Homo sapiens: one gene and its partner. The protein of the gene in region 2 purifies or fractionates together with the protein of the main gene of each other region. This does not show direct contact. Each region holds a gene or a part of one and is shown on either strand. Other genes may lie near its edges. The genes, in order: NID2 and AGRN.

Region 1 (11,149 bases), on a different chromosome or scaffold from region 2:
GAATGTCATGGTTAGAATGATTCTGTATGTAGCCTTTTCAGACTAGCTGCTTTCACAGAGCAACATGCTTTTAAGTTTCCTGCATGTCTTTCTGTGACATGATATGCCTAGAACATTTTAAAATCAGTCTTCACAGGTGAGGCTAATGGTCATTAAAATTTGAGAACCACTGCTTACTTTGAGACGGGGTCTTGTTATGTGGCCAACTCTGGCCTCAAACTCCTGGGCTCAGGTGATCCTCCCACCTCAGCCTCCAGAGTAGCTGGGATTACAGGTGTAAGCCACTGTACCCGATGAGAATGGTTTTAGAGTTTTGTTTCTACTACTATTTGCTTCCATTTATTTTTATTTTTTGAGACGGAGTCTCACTCTGTTGCACAGGCTGGAATGCGATGGCACAATCTTGGCTCACTGCAACCTCCGCCTCCTGGGTTCAATCAGTTCTCCTGTTTCAGCCTCCTGAGTAGCTGGGACTACAGACACATGCCACCACACCTGGCTAAATTTTTTTGTGTATATATATATATATATATATATGTTTTATTTTGTAGAGACAGGGTTTCACCATGTTGGCCAGGCTGGTCTTGAACTCCTGACCTCAGGTGATCCACCCACCTCAGCCTCCCAAAGTGCTGGGATTACAGGCATAAGCCAGTATGCCTGGCCTTCAGTTGAGAAGTAATTCACATACCATACAATTCATCCGTTTAAAGTACATAATTAAACAATTTCGTCTATTCAGTGTTATCCAACCGTCACCACAATCAATTTCAGAACATTTTCATCACCCCCAAAATTAACCCTGTACCCTTTAGCTATTAACGCCCTATGCTCTCATTATCTCTTAGCCCTGGGCAACCATGAATATGCTTTCTATGTATGTGGATTTGCCTATTTTGGATATTTCACATAATTGTAACCATTCAGTATGCTGTCCTTTGTCACTGACTACCTTCACTTAAGGTTTTCAGAGTTCATCCATGTTGCAGCATGTATCCGTACTTCATTCCTTTTTATGGTTGAATAATATTCCAGTATATGAATATATTTTTTGGTGTCCATCAACTGATGGGCATGTATGTTGCTTCCACCTTTTGGCTATTATGAATACTGCCACTATGAATATACACGAATAAGTTTTTGTGGGGATCTATGTTTTCATTTCTTTTGGGTATATAGAAAGGAGTAGAATTGCTCCATTAAATGGTAACTTTGTGTTTCACTTTGAGAAACCACTATTTTGTTTTTCACAGTAGCCACATCATTTTATAATCACACCAGCAACGTATGAGGGTTCCGAATTTTCCATGTTCTCGCCAACACTTGTTATTACCCGTTTTTTGATTATACTCGACCACATGATGTAAAGTAGTATCTCATTGTGGTTTTGATTTGCATTTCCCTGATGACTAATGATGCTGAGCATCTTTACACATGCCCATTGGGTATCTGTATATCTTTTTGGAGAGAGGTCCTTGCAGAGCTTTTGCCCATCTTTTAGTTAGCTTGTTTTTTTATTGAGTTGTAAGATACTTCGTATACTCTAGAACAAATATCACATGATTTAAAATACTGTCTCCCATTCTATGGCTGTGTTTTCACTTTGTTAATAATGTCCTCTGAAGCACAAACTGTTAAAATTTTGATGACACCCAGTTTATTTTGCTGTTGCTTGTGCTTTTAGTGTCGTACCTAAGAAACCATTAGCAAATTCAAAGTCACAAAAATTTACCCATATGTTTTCTTCTAAAAGTTTTAACTCTTACACTTAGGTCTGTTGGCCCATTTTGAGTTGGATATGCTGTGAGGTAAAAGGTTCAACTTCATTCTTTTGTATGTGGTCACTCAGTGGTCCCAGCACCATAGTTAACAATAGTTTAAAAGACTATTCTTTCTCCATTGAATTGTTTTGGCACTGTGTTTTTTGTTTTGTTTTGTCTTTTAACCATCAGAATTCTATTATTATTATACTTTAAGTTTTAGGGTACATGTTTACAACGTGCAGGTTTGTTACATATGTGTACATGTGCCATGTTGGTGAGCTGCACCCATTAACTCGTCATTTAGCATTAGGTATATCTCCTAATGCTATCCCTCCCCACTCCCGGCACTGTTGTTGAAAAAGCAATTGACTTTTAATGTGAGTATTTCTGGGTTCCCACTTCTGTTCCTTTGATCTTTACATGTATCCTTACGCCAGGACCACACTGTCTTGATTACTCTAGATTTCGAGTTTGAGAAATACAAGTCTGACTTTATTCTTTTCCAAGATTGTTTTGGCTATTCTGTGTTCTTTGAATTTCCATATAAATTCTAGAATCAGCTTGCCAATTTCTTCAAAGAGCCAGCTGAGATTCTGATAGGGATTATGTTGAATTAATAGATCAATTTGGGAAGTATTCACATCTTAACAGTATTAAGTCTTCCAATCCATGAATGTGGAACATCTTCCCATTTAACTGGGTCTTAAATTTTTTTCCAAAAATGTTTTGTGGGATGCAATGTACAAGTACTGCACTTCTTTTTAAAAATTTATCTCTTTTTGAAACAATTTCTTAATCTTTAGTTTGCTCATTGCTACTATAGAGAAATACAATTTGGTGTACTGATCTTGCATATCTTATAACATTGCGAACTTGTTCTTTAGTTCTAATAGTGTTTTAGTGAATTCCTGAGATTTTCTACACAAAATGTCATCTGAGACTAATTTTACTTTGTCCTTTTCCAATTTAGATGGCTTTTATTTTGTGTTCTTGCCTAATCACCCTGGCTAGAAATTCTAGTACTGAATTGAATAAAAGTGGCAACAGCAGACATCCTTGTCTTGTTCCTAAGCTTCAGGGAAAAGCATCCAGTCTTTCACCATTAAGTATAATGTTCTGGGAATCATGGAGGGGGAGGTTATACATCAAGTTCTATGATGTTTGGTTTTTCCAGATACTAGCTCTTTGCTCCACCTTAGTTTTGGATGAAATTCTTCTCATCTGTTTTAGCTAAAATGTCACTTTCTTGGGGACATCTTTTCTGAATCTTCAAACTAGACTCACAGTGCCCTGCTCTCATCACACTTGTAACAAATACTTGTCAGCATCACTCTCCCTCCTAATTCCAGTCTGCCTTGTTCACAGGTATATTCCTGATTGGCACGCACAGTTGGGTATTGCTATAAACCAGCTTCACATACTATGCTCTATTTCCTGACTTTGGCAGGGACACTGTTCCCTGCCCTAAAACTCTTTTCTGCCTCTGTTTCCAACTCAAGGGCAAGGATCTGCTCTATTCATCCTTATACCTAGCACATAACACAGCATGGCACTAGGTAACCCTTAGTAACCTCTGTGAATCATTCTAACTCTACTTAAAAGGATGTCATTTTTACCCAACAACAAAAAAGGAAACCTTACCTTTGACCGGGCCAATTTGATTGGTCACAGCAAATCTAAGCACTCTTTCTTCGTCATTATACAAGGCAAAGACCCGGTCCACGTTCAGCTGCTGGGTGGTGGGGAAGGACGGGTGTCTGGGGGCGTGCCTGCACACCTGGTAAGTGATGTTCTGGTGGATGCGGTAGGACCATGTTTGGTTGATTGCACCAAAAGTCAGAGAGTAGTCTCTGGAACTTGTAGAGGTCACAGCTGCAACAAACACAGTGGTAATTTTTTAAAAATATTAAATACAGAGATTTTCATGTGAGGTGGATTTTTCTGCAGTTTTTTTCATCTAATTCTTGGAGTGTGTTCCCTTGGGAACCTCCTGAGTTTATATGAAAAAATGTGTAAGGAAATCCCAAAAACCTGAGTGGATGCAAAGCCACAGTGCTGAGAGGGAGAAGGCACTACAATTGTCCATGTTATTATACACAAAGAATAAGTGTTACTAAGGGCCAGCCATGCCAACAGTGCTCTCTACATACTGCCTCATTTATTCCTCACAACAGCCTGGTGAGGTGGGCACTAAATCATGTGATCAGAGGCTCACAAAGGTTAAGTAGCCTAAGATGCAATGCTGCCACATGGTAGAGCTGGAACTGAAACTCACATTGGTTTGACTCTACACCCTAAATTTTAAACCAATCCATCTTCTACATTTCACAGAAGTGACGACTTCCAACACCTCGCACTTCAGTAAATCTGAAGGATTCCAGAGAAGGGAAAGGGTTGTCTCTCACCATCTGAGTCTAGGAGTCAAGCTCAGGTCAGTGATCCGGACACTGACCATTTTGTTCACAGCCCAGGTCTCTGCTTCCCCTTGTCTTCCCTACATCTCCTGCCAGGCTGCCAGCTCTCAGCATAGGAGCAGCAGGGGTCAGAGGAAAGGCACAACTCAATCCGGATTGCTGTGCTGCACAACAGCAGCTGTGATGGAGGCAGCATCCTGTGCGCAGGTAGTACTTTCACAGAACACATCACGCTTCGCACACATTGATCACATAATATAGAAAAAGCATTTTTAGTTCCATGTGAAAGATGAGAAAATACATTCTCAGATATTAAGAGGCCTTTCCCTATAGATATTAAATGGCAAGTCCAGGATATAAATTCTTATCTTTTGACTCCAAATCTAGCATTAGTTTTATAATAAATTATAGCATCTCTGTGTTTTTTGGTTTTGTTTTTGAGATGGAGTCTTGCTTTGTCGCCCAGGCTGGAGTACAATGGCACAATCTCGGCTCACTGCAACCTCCACTTCCCAGGTTCAGATGATTCTCCTGCCTCAGCCTCCCAAGTAGCTGGGATCGCAGGAGCGTGCCACCACACCCTGCTAATTTTTGTATTTTTAGTAGAAACAGGTTTTCACCATGTTGGCCAGGCTGGTCTTGAACTCCTGACCTCAGGTGATCCACCCACCTTGGCCTCCCAAAGTGGTGGGATTACAGGCATGAGCCATTGCACCTGGCCTCTTTCTGTGATTTTTTTTTTTTTTAAAGCAGCCTGAACTCATCAGCTGAAACAAGGTTGAGATAAATATAAATTCCAATAATCACTATTTTTCCATGTTGCAGAAAGTAGGATGGTTAAAAACTGTATATAATTATACCATCCCTACCCACCCCATGGACAATGTTGCTATTGATTTTATTATTTGAAAATACTATGTAGGGATATAGATATTCTTATGTATAGCAGCCATTCTGCTCACTTACACGATATATTTCATGGTAACAATAAGAGTAATAACATAATAGAGCTCATTTTATGTTCCATGCACTGTTCTAAGGACATGCCATGTAAGTCATTTAAGCCTTGTATCTATCTTGTGAGATGGGCATAATCCCCATTTTACAGATGTGAAGACTGGTTATACATACTGGAGTCGGAGTAGTGGTACAGCTCCTTGTAGGGAGAGATGTGGGCTGTGAAATTTGCTGAGACGTAAGGCACCTGGCCTTGAATGTTGGTCTTAATGCTCAGGTAGTTCTCTGGGTCAAGTCCCTCAGCAGTTTGAGTGATACGAACCGTCTCCTCTCCCGGGTAGAATGTAACTTCCATGTCATGGGTAAAGGCAGCACCTGGAGATGAAAAACATTCAGCACAGGGATGAAAAGAGGTCTTGCTTAAACAGTTACCAGTATATACTGCCCGCTCCCAATTTCTACTGCTGTTGGAGATCGTGCCTAAGGAGATTATCTGATATCTGAGAGTAAGCACTATCAGCTGTTGATTCCATAAGTTCCCAAACTTTTCCATTGAAGAATATGGTTTCATCCTGCCTTACCTCACCCAGCTTCTCTTTGAACAAGCTTGTATTCTGTGAGAAATACTCTTGGGAACGTCCTTGACTTTTCTCTAAGGTTGCTAGACTTAGCAAAAAACAAACAAACAAATAAACCTAACAACAAAAAAACAAAAACAAATAAACTACCACCTAAGACATTCAGGGTTTTGTTTGAATTTCAGATAAGTATGTCTCATGAAATATGTGGGTAATACTTATACTAGAAAATTGTTTATCTGAAATACAAATTTATCCAGGTGTGCCATTTTTTATCTACTTTTGACCCAAGGGCTTTATTCAAATTTTGATTAAAGCAAGAACCTATTAACAGCTACCGAGCTCTGCAGTTAAAGATGGAGAAAGAACTTCTCACAAAACTATTTTTAATGCAATAAAGATAAAACCTCTAGCAAACAAGTTTTCAGGTTGGAAGGTGAGAATCCAAAAAGTATCTTCTAAATCCTTGTTGTCAACGGGTGGCCTTTCCAGCAACACTGGTACCTCACCTCCTAGCTTGGTAGAAAAGCAAAATCACGGACCCCACCCCAGGCCTGCTGAACCAGAATTTACATTTTGACAAGACCTCCAAGTGATGTGTGTGCAGGTTCAAGTCTGGGGTGCACCGGCCTATACTATTATAGGTTGTGGAGCTGGGAGGAGAAGAGCACCCCTTCCCCATGAAGTAAAATCATCCCCAGGTGCCCCAAGTACCATTTTTGCATTTGACAGATCTGTGCATAATTTAAAAAGCCTGACAAATATGCTGCAACAAATTGGGGTAAGAGGACACAAATGTTCTGAATGGAATCATCCTGTTTCTCAGAACAGCTGGGAGAACATTTAGACGAAATCACTGCCTTTCAAAAATCAGTGATGTGAGGTCAAACCATTCCCAACAACCTGTGGCCAGAAAACTACACACATGTGGCTCTAGTACATTAAACAAGTGATTCCTCTGTCACTGCGTAAAGGCCTAAAGACAGTGCCCCAAGGAGCACCACTGCCAAAGCAATGCTGACTACCGGCCTTCTCAGAGGCCCTACTCACCTGCGAGGCTGAAGCCGTTCTCAGAGCCAGGTTTTTCTAAAGCAAAGAGCCAGCCAAACAGGCCTCCAATTGGTGTGAGGGGGAGGAGGGCCTGGGCTGCTGGCTGTGGGATGTGGCTGATGGCCGTGTAGGCTCTGCCATCATTGCCCACGATATACGCATGCAGGTCCACATCAGTGAAGTGCACGGGTGTATGGCCCACGTGGAGGTGGCCACTCACTTTCCCATTCACTCGGTGAGGTGCCCCTAAAAGACAGCAAATCCAGTTAGGCTTGGACGTCATCCTGGCTAGAGATGGGTGTACCCAGGTATAATTATTCCACTGACAACTTCCAAAACTCACTCTTTAGCAAGTCACTTTAATGATTTCCTAACCAACCAATTATCCATCTATGAAACAGTCCTGCCTCCAGTCTGTTTTCTCCCCTCCTCCTTCTACTCCACTACACTTTGGCTCTAATGAGCTGGCAGAAGGAAGCATTTCTGGATAATCCTCAAATTGGGAATCAGCCCAAACCAGTTCATTCCTCACACATTTATTGAGCACCTGCAAGTTGATAGCACTCTGATTTAAGTAGTGGAGATGTTTGGTCCATAAAGCAGAGCTCACAGTGGTAGCTGGAAACAGGTAAGCAGCAGGAATAGACACACAGGAGTTCCTGGCCCCAGTCAATTACCTTCAGGCAGACAGTGCTTCCCATTTCCATAAAACTTGGATTGGCAGTGGCAGCAGAAGCCAGTGGCATAGTCCGTGCAGAAGGCATGCCGGGAGCATTGTCTGTGGTTGTGTTCACAGGTTTCCTTGTTGGCAGCATTATACGTGAAGACTGAAAAATAAAACAAACTTGCCTTAAAAGGACTAAATGATTCCAATGTCACTGCTGCATCGGGGACACAACATCTGCTCCATAGAAGCAGTTTAGATCATAACAAACAGTTTTTGATGTTTAAGAGACCGGCATAACATTCAACCCAAGGGAATTAATCTGCTTTGTCTGCTGGCAAGAAGAATTGCTTACTGCTCCCGGCTGGGTCCCATTGCAGAGTTGGTGAACTAAGATGAGACTGCACCCGTGGGTTTGAGTGCAGTAAAATGAAAGCAAACCAGTAAGTACATGTTAGGTTGAACTTCATGAAACCACTATTTTTGTGGGTCAAAAAGGGCTAAATATCAGCACTTTTATATGGTTCAACCTAAACACATCCTGAGAGGAAGACATAATAGAGAAGCTAACAAATGTCTTATGTCTAACCATCCTTCTTTTAGGGAACACTGAACTTAAAAAAGATAATAGCTGGTCTCGCTACCAAGATTGTTTTGAGGGAAGGGTCTTAAAGAACACACGCACCTACCTCAAAGAAAAGGCATGGGGAGAAGGGGACAGAGGAGGGCAAAACAACAGGGATTCAAGCTATTAAAATGCCCTATGCCCTTGGCAGGGTTTAACTATGATGGGTATGGTACAAGCATGATTTCCACGCAGTAGCAGACAGCTTGGGCCCCACTCGCAGATCTTCCAAGAAATTATGGAGGACTAGGATAAATTCAGTGCTCTGGCAGCTGTTTCTTCCATTTCCTACTTATTCTGCCCATTAAAAGAAGAGGGCCATCTGTGCTGCAAAGAAATGGGGAAACTGGAGCAAATGCCATAGTTCATAAAGGAAATAGCCAAGGGGGTAGGGTGTGGCGGGGGTTGTGGATGGACAGGAGGGTGCTTTCTCCGGGGCACTAGGAAATATGCCAATCCCAAGCATGGCCACCAGGAGGCCAAGCGGCTGCACACACCTCTGCCTCCACATCCCCAGGAGGTGGAGTTGGCTGGAGACTCCAGGAGCATGCTGTTGAGCAGGGATGGCATGGAATTCTAGTGTGAGACACGGATGCTGGCATGAAGGAGGACACCCACCCTACTCTTAGGAAAAACCAAGTGGTAGTTGTGTTCCAGGTCTATCTGGAAACGAGGAGACAGGAGGGGAGGAAGAAATCCAAAGATCAATCTTTACCCAGTATTCCCAGGGAGAACAGAAAGTAAAGGAGCTAATGAGACATAGCATTATAGGTACAATGTCACCAAGATAAAGACCTCCATCAGCAAATAAAAATATAACAAAGTTAACACTTCAATCGCGCTTAACATATACAAGCTTTACATTTAACAACCTTTTTTTTTTTTTTTTTTTTTGAAACGGAGTCTCGCTCTGTCGCCCAGGCTGGAGTGCAGTGGCACGATCACAGCTCACTGCAAGCTCCACCTCCCAGGTTCACGCCATTCTCTTGCCTCAGCCTCCTGAGTAGCTGGGACTACAGGCACCCACCACCACGCCTGACTAATTTTTTGTATTTTTTAGTAGAGACAGGGTTTCACCATGTTAGCCAGGATGGTCCTGATCTCCTGACCTCGTGATCCACCTGCCTCGGCCTCCCAAAGTGCTGGGATAACAGGCGTGAGCCACCCCGCCCGGCCAACAACTCTTAATTTGCACAACAACCCTAGGTAGCAGGGACTTTTTTTTGTTGCTGTTGTTGAGACAGGGTTTTGCTCTGTCACCCAAGCTGGAGAGCAGTGGTGCCATCTCGGCTCACTGAAAGCTCGACTTCCCAGGCTCAAGTGATCCTCCTATTTCAGCCTTTTGAGTAGCCGCAGCCACAAGCATGCATCACACCTGCCTACTTTATTTTTTGGTAGGGTGGGTTGGGGGGAGGGGTCTCCCTGCGTTGCCCAGGTTGGTCTCGGTCTCGAACTCCTGGGCTCAAGTGATCTTCCCACCTAGGCCTCCCAAAATGCTGGGATTACAGGTATGAGCCACCACTCTGGCCAGGGACAATTTTTTAACCCGTTTGCAGATAAAGCTGAGGCACAGTAGACTAAAGCACCTGAAGTCGCATAGGCAGTGAGTGGCAAAGGTGGGAACCGAACCTAGGACATCTAGCTGGAGAATCTTAACTGCTACTCTCCACGACCCCTTCAATGGGATCCAAGTACGGAGATCATGAGCACTAGATTAGGGGTCACCACATGTCTGGGGTTAATCAGCACAGACTTCAAGTATAATTCGAGTCATACTTTATAAACTGGGTTTAATGGTAGAAGCAAGCAGGGAAGATTATCGAGATGACTATTACAGCATGTTGAAAAACAGCACAGGTAAGAAATGAGAGTAGCAGCAGCGGCATTAGCTTTTGAACAGTACTGGAGTGCTGCCTGCAGATCCTTGGGAAAGCAGCAAGCTGAGGGTTGGCAGGACAGACAGTGTAGGTTCAAGTGGAAAATCTGATTAGAACATAGTAGGAATGAAGTTATGACTCAAGATTTAGTATAGGGCCTTGATGACTTGGCTAAGAAATTCCAGTTTGATAAAAATAGAAAATTAGGCATGACTCAACTTTATTTAAACAAGAAAGTGACAAGCTTAACTTAAACAGAAAAGTGATATAAAACTCAAGGCAGAAAAAAAAAAAAAAAAAACCCAGGATGGATCATGGTAAAATAGATGGCTGTGAAGAAAACTGTATCACTGTCTATTAGTTTAAGAAAGGGAAAAAAACATTTAGAGTAAAAGGAAATGAATGTAACTTGGATGTGTCAAAATCTCAGGTTTCTCCAGCTCAGAAATTCACAACTAAGTGTAAGGAAGCAGCTACAGGAGGGACTCACACACTCACCAGTGTGCTCATGGCTTAAGGGCCATCAGGACTTTCTCCCAGAGCTCAAGGAATGAGGGGCTGCAGAAAGCGCCAAGCTCTAGGACTCAACCTCAGCCCTCCCTCGGGGGCTTTGTGGAAACTATGCAAACTGTCTTTCAGCTTCCTCATCTCTAAAATAAGTAGAACACCTCTTCCTCACCCCTGCATTGCCAGAAGTCGCATTTCTTCTTAATGTACTTCTGAACACCAAGTAAAAAGGCAATCTGCTATAGGTCTAAAGAACAGCCATTTGGCTGGGCCCGGCAGCTCACACCTGTAATCCCAGCACTTTGGGAGGCCGAGGCAGGCGGATCACGAGGTCAGGAGACTGAGACCATCCTGGCTAACACGGTGAAACCCCGTCTCTACTAAAAATACAAAAAATTAGCCAGGCGTGGTGGTGGGCGCCTGTAGTCCCAGCTACTCGGGAGGCTGAGGCAGGAGAATGGCGTGAATCTGGCAGGCGGAGCTTGCAGTGAGCCGAGATCGCACCACTGCACTCCAGCCTGGGCGACAGAGAGAGACTCCATCTCAAAAAAAAAAAAAAAAAAAAGCCGTTTTCATAATATTCAGATAAAAATCAATCCAAACTTTACAAGCTGTTCTGCCCACAAATTAAGGAAATAACAGGCTTGGATTGTATCTTATTTCAGTTATTTTGTGAAGCCTTATTCTGCAACCCAATTCTTATTCTGAGGCTGA
Region 2 (9,646 bases):
ATGCTTCGGGTCTGGGTTTGGGCGTGTTTTCTCTGGACCTTTCCTGAAAACCAAAGTTAGTCTGCCCCCACCCTGGCCCCCCACCGTCAGCGACCTGTGTGTGGCCACCGCTCCTGGACTCTCTCCTCCCCGACCCCCAGTGCCTGACACCTGCCAGGCACACAGGGTCGGTCAGCATATCCCCAGAGGACCAGGTGATGAAAAGCCCAGAAAGCAAACACTCAGACGCATGGGACCTCCTGGGTGTGGAGCTTGTGGGTATTATCTTTTCATTTTTTTTTTGAAACGGAGTCGCGCTCTGTCGCCCACGCTGGAGTGCAGTGGTGCAATCGCGGCTCACTGCAACCTCCGCCTCCCGGGTTCAAGCGATTCTCGTGCCTCAGCCTCCCGAGTAACTGGGATTACAGATACCTGCCACCACGCCCAGATGTTTGTGTTTTTAGTAGATACAGGGTTTCACCATGTTGGCCAGTCTGGTGTTGAACTCCTGACCTCAGGTGATCCGCCTGCCTCAGCCTCCCAAAGTGCTGGGATTATAGGCATGAGCCAATGTGCCCAGCCATTGGTGTTATTTTATTTCGATGTTTTTGTGGTTTTCTTTTTTCTTTTTTTTTTTGAGACGGAGTCTCCTTCAGCCACTGAGGCTGGAGTGCAATGGCGTGATCTCGGCTCACTGCAACCACCGTCTCCTGGGTTCAAGCAATTCTCCCGTCTCAGCCTCCGGAGTAGCTGGGACTACAGGCACCCACCATCATGCCCAGCCAGTTTTTGTATTTTAGGAGAGACAGGGTTTCACCATGTTGGCCAGGCTCGTCTTGAACTCCTGACCTCAGGTGATCCACCCGCCTCGGCCTCCCAAAGTGCTAGGATTACAGGTGTGAGCCAGCGCACCTGGCTTTTTTTTTAAAATCATTAATACAAAATAGAAAACTACACTTAGTTATTTTTCATAAGAGACAGCAGTTTGCGAAGGGCCACCCAGCTGGCCACACACCCTACCCCTTCTTCCCCTGCTTCTCCCCAGGGCTCACATCTGCCGGTGCTGGGTGCCAGCTCTGTTTTTTAGACAGGTTCTCGCTCTGTCACCCAGGCTGGAGTGCAGTGGTGCAATCACAGCTTGCTGCTGCCTCAACCTCCTGGATTCAAGTGATCCTCCTGCCTCAGCCTCCGGAGTAGCTGGAGCTACAGGTGTGTACCACCACGCCTGGCTAATTAAAGAAATTTTTTTGCAGAGATGGGGTCTCACTATGTTGCCCAAGCTGATCTCCCACTCTTGGCCTCAAGCGATCCTCCAGCCTCAGCCTCCCAAAGTGCTGGGATGACAGGTGTGAGCCACCGCGCCCTTCCCTGAGGCTCAGCTTCTGCAGTGCTGTCACCCACACACTAATTTAGGAAGCAGGTTAGAGGGAGTCCAGGAGCCCAGCTACCCCAGGGGTTTCTAGTTAGGGGCTTCCAGCAGTGCCAAGGGTTGGTTCTGCACACCTGGGCCAGTGAAAAGGCTGCCCAACAGCCCCACGCACCCTGGCTCCCCCCAGACCCTTCCAGTCCTGGGTGCAGCCTCCTCCCAACCCTGTGCTCTGACACAGATGTGGGCCAATTATGTGTGCAGGCACACACACACACACACACACGTGCACGCCAGAGAGCAGGCACACACACCCACACATACACGCCGGAGAGCAGGCACACGCACCCACACACGTACATGCACCCACACATGCACGCCGGAGAGCAAGCACACGCACCCACACGCACACGCACCCACACATACACGCCGGAGAGCAGGCACACGCACCCACACACACGTACATGCACCCATACATGCACGCCGGAGAGCAGGCACACGCACCCACACCCACACGTACCCACACGTGCACGCCAGAGAGCAGGCACACGCACCCACACGCACATGCACCCACACGTACCCGCACCCACACGTACCCGCACCCACACGTGCACGCCAGAGAGCAGGCACATGCACCCACACGTACCCGCACCCACACACACACACCCCCACACGTACACGCACCCACACGTGCACGCCAGAGAGCCTCCTGCCTCCACGGCCCCGCCTCCCACAGTGCTCAGCAGTGTGTGCTCCCCACTCAGGGCCTCATCAGCCACAAGGATCCCTGTGCAGGGCCTGGCTCCATCCAGGGCCACCCAAGGGAGCTCCAAGTCCGTGCTCCCACCACAAAGCGGAGCAAGAAGCCAACGGGCCAGCGCGCTGGTGAGGATGGACAAAAGCAATGCTTTTAAAGTTTTCAGACTTTATTTCACAGCGATTGACACAGAAACATACTAGAGTTAGTAACACGGCACCCAGCCCCACCGCCGCCCGCTTCATCGGGTCCTGCTCCTAGGAGGACTGGGCTGGGGCTGGGGGTGGGGATGGGATGGGGGTGGGGAAGGGACGGGACGTTGCAGTTTAAGGCATTTCTGGCTTCGGAGCCATCCCTGCCACCTCTGCACCTGCCCCTTGACCTTGGTCAGACACTGGCTGGCCCCTGGTCATTCTGAGACAAGGACGACTTTCACTGACGCTGTGGGGAGGATTTGCAGTGAGGCAGCCCTCAGCCGCTCTCAGGCGAGATGGGAAAGATGAGACCCACCACTCCAGGGGTCAAATAAAATCAACACATGAAGAACACAGCCATGGCCAGGCCCAGATACCCAGGCAGGCGGCAGAGGTCAACCCCATCCCACAGTGAGCTCCTCTCGATAGCCCCTCGCAGGGCCTGGGGTGTGGCAGAGGGATACGGTCACGTCCAGGGTGGCTGGGCAGGGCCAGCTGAGGGTCAGGACACCCAGATCGGCCCTGGTCTGGCCTCTGCTCCTCAGCAGCCTGGGGCTGGCGCAGGCAGCACGGGAGCAACGCAGAGCTGTGCCCAGCAGTAACATTGTTTGGAAGTCACAGTATTGGCGCAGGAGGCCGAGGCAGGGCCCAGAGCACACACAGGAAGGAGCAGCTCAAATGGGGGCTTGGAAAGGCCCTGTGGGGTCACCCGGAGGAAGGGCCCCATCAGACCTCAGCAGCCCCTTCCTCTCTGGGACACGAGTCCCGCCTGACGGAGCGAGGGTGATTCAGGAGCCGGGGCTGCTTCCCGGCGGGGACACCGTGGGGCAGGCGCAGTGCAAGGCGGGGGCTCAGCACCTTGAGGCAGGGGTGTGTGTCCTGAGGCTGCCATCCACGCCGAGCCCTCCACGCTGCCACCTCGCCTGTCCATCCCTCGGCACTAGGTCTGTCTGCAGCACGGCTGCCTGGACGGAAGGGAGGCCGGGCCAGCAGTCCCTCCGGCCAACACTCAGGCAAGAAAATCATATCAAAAAGCAACAAGTTTACAAAAATAGAAAATAATTACAGCGGGCGCGGGGCTCTGGTGCCAGCTCATGGGGTGGGGCAGGGCCGCAGCTCTGGCTTGGTGACGGCGTCCTCCAGCAGGTGCAGCGGGTGCCGGCCCACCACCACGTCCCGCAAGCAGCCCACAAAGCCTGTGCCGTAGGCCTTGGGCAGTGCTGGGCCCACGGGCAGCTCCGGCAGGCCCCCTGCAGCACAGACAGTGGGAGTCACCCGGCTGTGACTCAGTGATGCTGATGGGCACCCCAACGAGCAGGTGACCAGCAGGGGGCCCACACCTGGGCACCCGCCTCCCGGCCCCACAGCACTGGGAACTGCAGGGGCTACAGCGGGAGAAGAGAGCCCAGCCCGCCGGCTCACATGCACCCTGACTCAAGGGTGGGCGCTGGGGGGTGGAGTCTGTCCCTCGGATATCATGAGACCCTTGGGCATCCCTCTCTAGTCTCCCCAAAACACTCACCAAGCCACAGGGCTCCATCAGTGTCCAGCTGCGTGGCGCCCAGCGGGGAGGAGCCGGTCACAGGGGCCTCATTGCCCACCTGCAGGGAACCTTCCCTCTGCTCCCTGGGTGTGCAGGGAGGGGGAGACCATCAGGGCCCAGAGTTCCCTCTGCCTCCTCTAGACCATAAGCCCTGCATCCTTCCTATGCCCTGCAGGTGCCTCAGCCTGGAGAACCCCCGAGGTATCACCCCTGGGGGCAAGGATGAGGTGGCCTTGACCCCAAGGAGGGCACTGGGAGCCAAGGCCGGGGACATTCCTGCAGCTCAAGCTTTGCTGGAGGCGACGGCCAGGCTCAGACTGGAGCGACCCCCGGCAGGCTCCGGGCAGGGCCGGGATGCCTTTCAGACGTGGAAACTGATCATTGCTTCTCCTGCATCTTCTTGGCCCTTCCTCCTCCCACTGGCAGTGACCTCGGCTCAGGCAGCAAGGCGTGTCCTCCCTGACCCCTGGTCACAAGTGACTGGACACAGCCCAGCTGGGCAAGTCTGGGCAGCCCTCGCCACTATTCTCGGCACGCTGGGTTCCCTACTCACCTATGTGCCACGACCCGCAACCAGCGGTTGGTGTTGACGGGCACGGTGGAACGCAGCACCACGGGCTGGGAGCCCAGGTTGTAGCTCAGTTGCAGGTGCCCGTCCACAATGGCCAGTGCCACATAGTCTGCCCGCTCCGTGGCCTTGCCACTCCAGAGCACCAGCCCCTGCGTGGCCTCAGTGCGCAGGCTCAGTTCAAAGTGGTTGCTCTGCAGTGCCTTCTCGCTGGAGGGCAGAGGGCAGGTCAGGGCCTCTAGGAAGGTGGCAACAGGACAGGGTGGGGGAGGCGGGAGGACAAGGGCCCCAGCTGCGGAGGCCACAAGGGCTGTGACGGGACCCAGGGGTGGCTGGTGGGCAGACACCGACAGTGGGAGGGAGAAGAGGGATGGAGACAGGGGCAGCCTGGCAGAGAGAGATCAGAGAGACGGGCGGGAGGACAGATGGGCCAGCCAGGGGTCTGCAGGCACTGCTGCCACGTGCTCACCTGTGAAGGGCCCCGGAATCCAGAGTTTCGGGGCTTAGAAGCAGGAAGAGAGGGAGGCGGGTGAGCAGGGGACAGGCGGGGCCAATGCAAACCCATCTCAACACTGTGGGGTGCAAGGAGCAGGCACCCACAGAAGACATGCGTGACCTCGAGGATCACTGGCCGCCCACCAAAGAGCCCAGCAGGGACACCTACACATGCTTGTGCGGACACGAGACACGTGAGGGTGCAGACACCCACGTGCAGACACGAGACACTTGAGGGCACAGACACCCACATGCAGACACCCACGTGCAGACACCCACGTGCAGACAGCAGGGGAGCACAGCCAAGGCTGGGCGCAGAGATCAAGGAGGTAGGCGTAGGGTGGTATGGAGTGGAGACCAGGGGCTTGGATGCCCCAGTACACACATGCATGTGTGCATGCACGCAAACCTACACACGGACACACACACCCCTCCATGTTCACACACATACACACGTGTACACGAACACACACAGACACACCTGAGTGCTCCCCACTTACACCTGTTCATACACACACACATCTACATATCCCCCCATATATACACGCATATACACGGACCCATGCACACACTCGGACACACACCTGTCTCCCCCACATATACACACACATACATGGACCCATGGACACACACTCGGACACACACCTGCGTGTCTCCCTCATATACACACACATACATGGACCCATGTGCACACACTATACACACATGGACCCATGCACACACACTCGGACACACACCTGCGTGTCTCCCTCATATACACACACATACATGGACCCATGTGTACACACTATACACACATGGACCCATGCACACACACGGACACACACATGCATGTCTCCCTCACCTATACACACACATACATGGACCCATGTGCGCACACACTCAGACACACACCTGCGTGTCTCCCTCATATACACACACATACATGGACCCATATGCACACACACACACACGGACACATACCTGCATGTCTCCCTCATATACACACACATACATGGAGCCATGCACACACACGGCCGCATAGTCACACACGCATATCTACATGTCCCCCCCACATATACACACACACATATACATGGACCCATGCACACACACAGCTGGATATTCACACACACTTGCACATCCACTCCATATACATAGACACGCACAGACACAGCTGCATGTTCACACACGCGGAAGTGCACACGGACACAGACATGCATGCATATGCGCACAGGTGTGTACAGCCTCAGTGGTGGGGGTTGGCTGTGGGGCGACCCTCGGCCTGTGCCCTGGGAGGGGCGACTGCACTTCTGAGGCAGGAAACGGCCTCTTGCAGCCAAATAGCGCCGGACCCCCATCCTCCGCCACAAGGGATGGAAAGTTCCCCGGGGGCTCCGGACTCTGCTCCCCACCAGGAAGGATGGAGGAGTGGGAGTGAGAGGGAGCGGGGGGCGCCGAGCTCTACTCACACGGGGATCTCATTGGCCAGTTCGCTTGGAAACAAAGAGACAGACAGTGAGAGGCGGGAGGACCGGGAGGTGAGAGAGAGGCGGGAGGACAGAGGTGGCAGCACCGGGCCGTCCCCTCCTGGGCCCTCCTGGTGTGGGGGTCCGGTGTCCCGCCCCGAGGGCACAGATGGAACCGACAGCCAGCAGAGGATGGCACGTTACCTCTCGGTCACAGCGTTGAGGTACTCGACAAAGGTCCGCCCGTCAAAGGCCAAGGTATCCACGTCCCCCGCTGACTTCTCCACCAGCCCTGTGAGATAGGCAGGTGAGGGTGGGGCCTCGTGGGCTCCGGGCCCATCCGGCCTCCGCCCCCTGCCCTGTGCCAGGCTCACCCTTCTCGCAGTGCGGTCCTGAGAATCCCCCGGGACACAGGCACACATAGGCAGCCTCCCTCGGGACGCAGGAGGCCCCATTGAGGCAGGGGTGGCCTGAGGCCCGGGTGCAGGGGTGACCTGCAAAGGACGTGACGTCCACCTGCCGCAGCACGTGCTCCGGGGTCAGCAGCTGGCGGCCTCCGAGGGAGACCTGCAGGGCAGGGTGAGGGCCTTGTCCCGCCTGCCACCCCGCCCGCCCCGGAGGCCCTGCTGGGACGCCCCGCCCCCACATACCAGCTGGATGGCACCGTCGAAGCCAGAGGACACGGCAGCAGCACGGGCCAGCTTGCTGAAGTCGGGAGCGCCCCCTACGTAGAGCGGCTCCTTCAGGTTGAGGACGGTGTGCGGAACCTGCGGGGACGCCAGGTAAGTGGCTGTGCAGAGCCCACCCACGGTGCAGACCCAGGGCCCAGGCACCTGCACGCACCCGCCCCACCCGCCCATTGCCTATCTAGGGGGCAGCGTTAATCACACAGAAATGGCAGGGTCCTTAGTGGGGGAGGAGCTACCCTAGGGGTTGAGGCGCCAGAGACGGTGAGCGGATGAGAGGCCGACAGTACCTTGCGGGATTTCTGGCCTCCGAAGAGCGGGTGGGGTTGCAGAGCGAGAGCAGAGAGCAGGGAGGCAGAGGAGGCAGAGGACAGGGCAGGCGGCCAAGAGAACAGGACAGAAAAACAGCTCCGTGAGCGCCGGCAGGGGCGGGGCTGCCGCCCGAGGAGGAAGAGCAGGCAGCAGCGGGAGTCCCCTCGCGGCCCAGAGCACTCACCGGGGACTCCCCCAACACACGGGGGCCGTCGCCCACACGCAGGGCACCCTTGCGGCCGTTTCGCTCCAGTGAGACCCTGGTCCAGGCTCCCAGGGTGACTGGCTCCCTGCTCCTGGTGAGGAGGGGCAGCGTGAGTGGGCTCTGTCCACCACCGGCCACGCGACCACCCAGGGCCTGAGCGACCTGCTGGTGCCCCGGCCCCGGGCCAGTGCCCCAGGCCTCCCAGAGCCACCCTTGCCGGCCCACCTGATGACCGCTGCCCCCTTGCCCAGGTCGTAGCGGAACTCCAGGCGGCGGTCCCGCAGTGCCAGCGACACGAAGTCCCCCTTGCCGTCCGTCTTCTGCCCGTTGTAGAGCAGGAGGCCGCTGGGGCCTCGTGCCAGGAACACGACCTCCAGCGCCATCTTCTCCCTGGGGTCATGGGGAGTCGGGGTGTCTTTGCTGTCCCCTCCCCACAGGAGAGACGGAGGTGGGGGCCGGCCCTTCCCCCTGCTCCTGCCCCACCGACCCCAGGTCCCGTGCAAAGGTGTGCAGGCCTCTCAGCTCCAGGTGGGAGAAGCCGTTGAAGTCAGCCAGGAAGGGCCCAGAGCCGTCCTGCCCCGAGGCTGTAGGGAGAGTCACCAAGGCCTCAGTCCTGACCCCCGGGGCCTCCTGCACCCCATGCCAGCCGTGTGTGGATCCTAACTCAAAACCCAGACTAGACTGAGCCGCATCCTAACTGCAATGCTACCTGGAACCTGTACCCGCCCAAACGTTCAACCCCCCCCCCCCCCCTGCCCCGAGAGCCCCACGCCCCCGACCTGTCTGGCAGAAGGTGCCCTCACGCCCCAGGGGGCACTCGCACTGAGCACCACCCTCGGGCAGCACACGGCAGGGCGCCGCCCCATGGCAGGGGTTGGGCTGGCAGGGGCTCTTCTCATCGGCACAGGTTGGTCCTGGATGGAGGAAGACGGGACCGGGACCGAGGTCCCAGGAGGCGTCGGTTGGGTACCGCCCACAGGCCCCGGGGTCCCACTCCCACCCGCCCCGGCCCCACCCTCACCGACGCGGCCGGGCGGGCACTGGCAATGGAACCTTCCAGCCTCCAGGTTCTGGCATGGGGCCCCGCCATGGCAGGGGTTGGGCAGGCAGGGGTGGTCCCCGCACTCGCCCACGCCAGAGCCTCGGGTGGCAGCCCCCGGCCCAATGCCAAGCTCCAGGCGCTGGTTGTTGACGTCCAGCAAACGGATGCACCCCCTCAGGCCGGCGCCCACGAAGGTCCGCTCCAGCGCCCTGCCACCAGGAGGGACACCGGGTCAGGGCTCAGGGGCCACAGGCAAAGCCACCTCGTACACCGGGACCCCAAAGGGCCGGGGTCGGGGCCACACCACCCTCCAAGGGACTCACACGGCAGCCTGGTCCTCGGGTACGCCGCCCACAAAGAGGTCTGTGTCCAGGTTGAGGCCGTCGGTGCCACTGGGACTCTCGCCCAGAACAGGGGTCTCACCATCCACCGAGAGGGTGCCCCGGCGCCAGTGCCGGGACAGCTCCAGGCGGTGCCACTGGCCCGGCTCTACCGGCACGGCACTGGTCAGCACCGCCGGCCCCGAACCTGTGTCAAACCTGAGGGCAGGAGCAGGTGCTCAGGACCATCGCCCGGCCCCGTCCCCACCCCGCCTACCTGAGCTGCCCCGCCCCCGTCCCCACCCCACCCACCTGAGCTGCCCCGGCCCCCCCTCCCCCGCCCGTCCCCTCCCCGCCCACCTGAGCTGCCCCGGCCCCGTCCCCTCCCCGCCCACCTGAGCTGCACGCGGCCATCTAGCAGCGCCAATGCCAGGAAGTCCTTGCCCCGGGCGTTGCCATTGTACAGCAGCAGCCCCTGAGGCTCCAGCGCCCGGAATTCCAGTGCCAGGCGCAGCGTGTGGTAGGCGCGGAGAGTGGGGAAGGCCAGGAAGGAGCGGCCCTCGAAGGCCGGCACAGGGGCGCCAAGCACTGCAAAGGGCGACCGGGAGGGCCGGCTGGAAAAGCTCCGAGGATTCCCCACTTTTATCCCTGAAACCGCCCCCTGCTTTTTTTTTTTTTTTTTTTTTTGAGACGGAGTTTTGCTCTTTTTGCCCCGGCTGGAGTGCAGTGGC

Evidence for each region.
Region 1: the proteins of AGRN (region 2) and NID2 purify together in Homo sapiens (affinity purification with mass spectrometry; 2 studies listed by BioGRID and IntAct, with this or other methods). This does not show direct contact.

What each region holds. Positions count from the first base shown.
Region 1 is NC_000014.9:52,035,343-52,046,491, forward strand, and holds part of NID2 (nidogen-2 precursor), read right to left. Parts: intron 7,590-11,149; coding exon 7,440-7,589; intron 7,009-7,439; coding exon 6,763-7,008; intron 5,510-6,762; coding exon 5,309-5,509; intron 3,636-5,308; coding exon 3,405-3,635; intron 1-3,404.
Region 2 is NC_000001.11:1,048,724-1,058,369, reverse strand, and holds the end of AGRN (agrin isoform 2 precursor), read right to left. Parts: intron 9,504-9,646; coding exon 9,311-9,503; intron 9,135-9,310; coding exon 8,919-9,134; intron 8,805-8,918; coding exon 8,575-8,804; intron 8,468-8,574; coding exon 8,333-8,467; intron 8,138-8,332; coding exon 8,041-8,137; intron 7,944-8,040; coding exon 7,779-7,943; intron 7,645-7,778; coding exon 7,533-7,644; intron 7,339-7,532; coding exon of another isoform or gene 7,327-7,338; intron 7,118-7,326; coding exon 7,001-7,117; intron 6,918-7,000; coding exon 6,725-6,917; intron 6,643-6,724; coding exon 6,555-6,642; intron 6,378-6,554; coding exon of another isoform or gene 6,354-6,377; intron 4,910-6,353; coding exon of another isoform or gene 4,877-4,909; intron 4,618-4,876; coding exon 4,393-4,617; intron 3,923-4,392; coding exon 3,819-3,922; intron 3,547-3,818; coding exon 3,389-3,546; 3' UTR 2,994-3,388; coding exon of another isoform or gene 2,971-2,993; 3' UTR 2,254-2,970; downstream 1-2,253. UniProt on the Homo sapiens protein: Isoform 1, isoform 4 and isoform 5: neuron-specific (z+) isoforms that contain C-terminal insertions of 8-19 AA are potent activators of AChR clustering.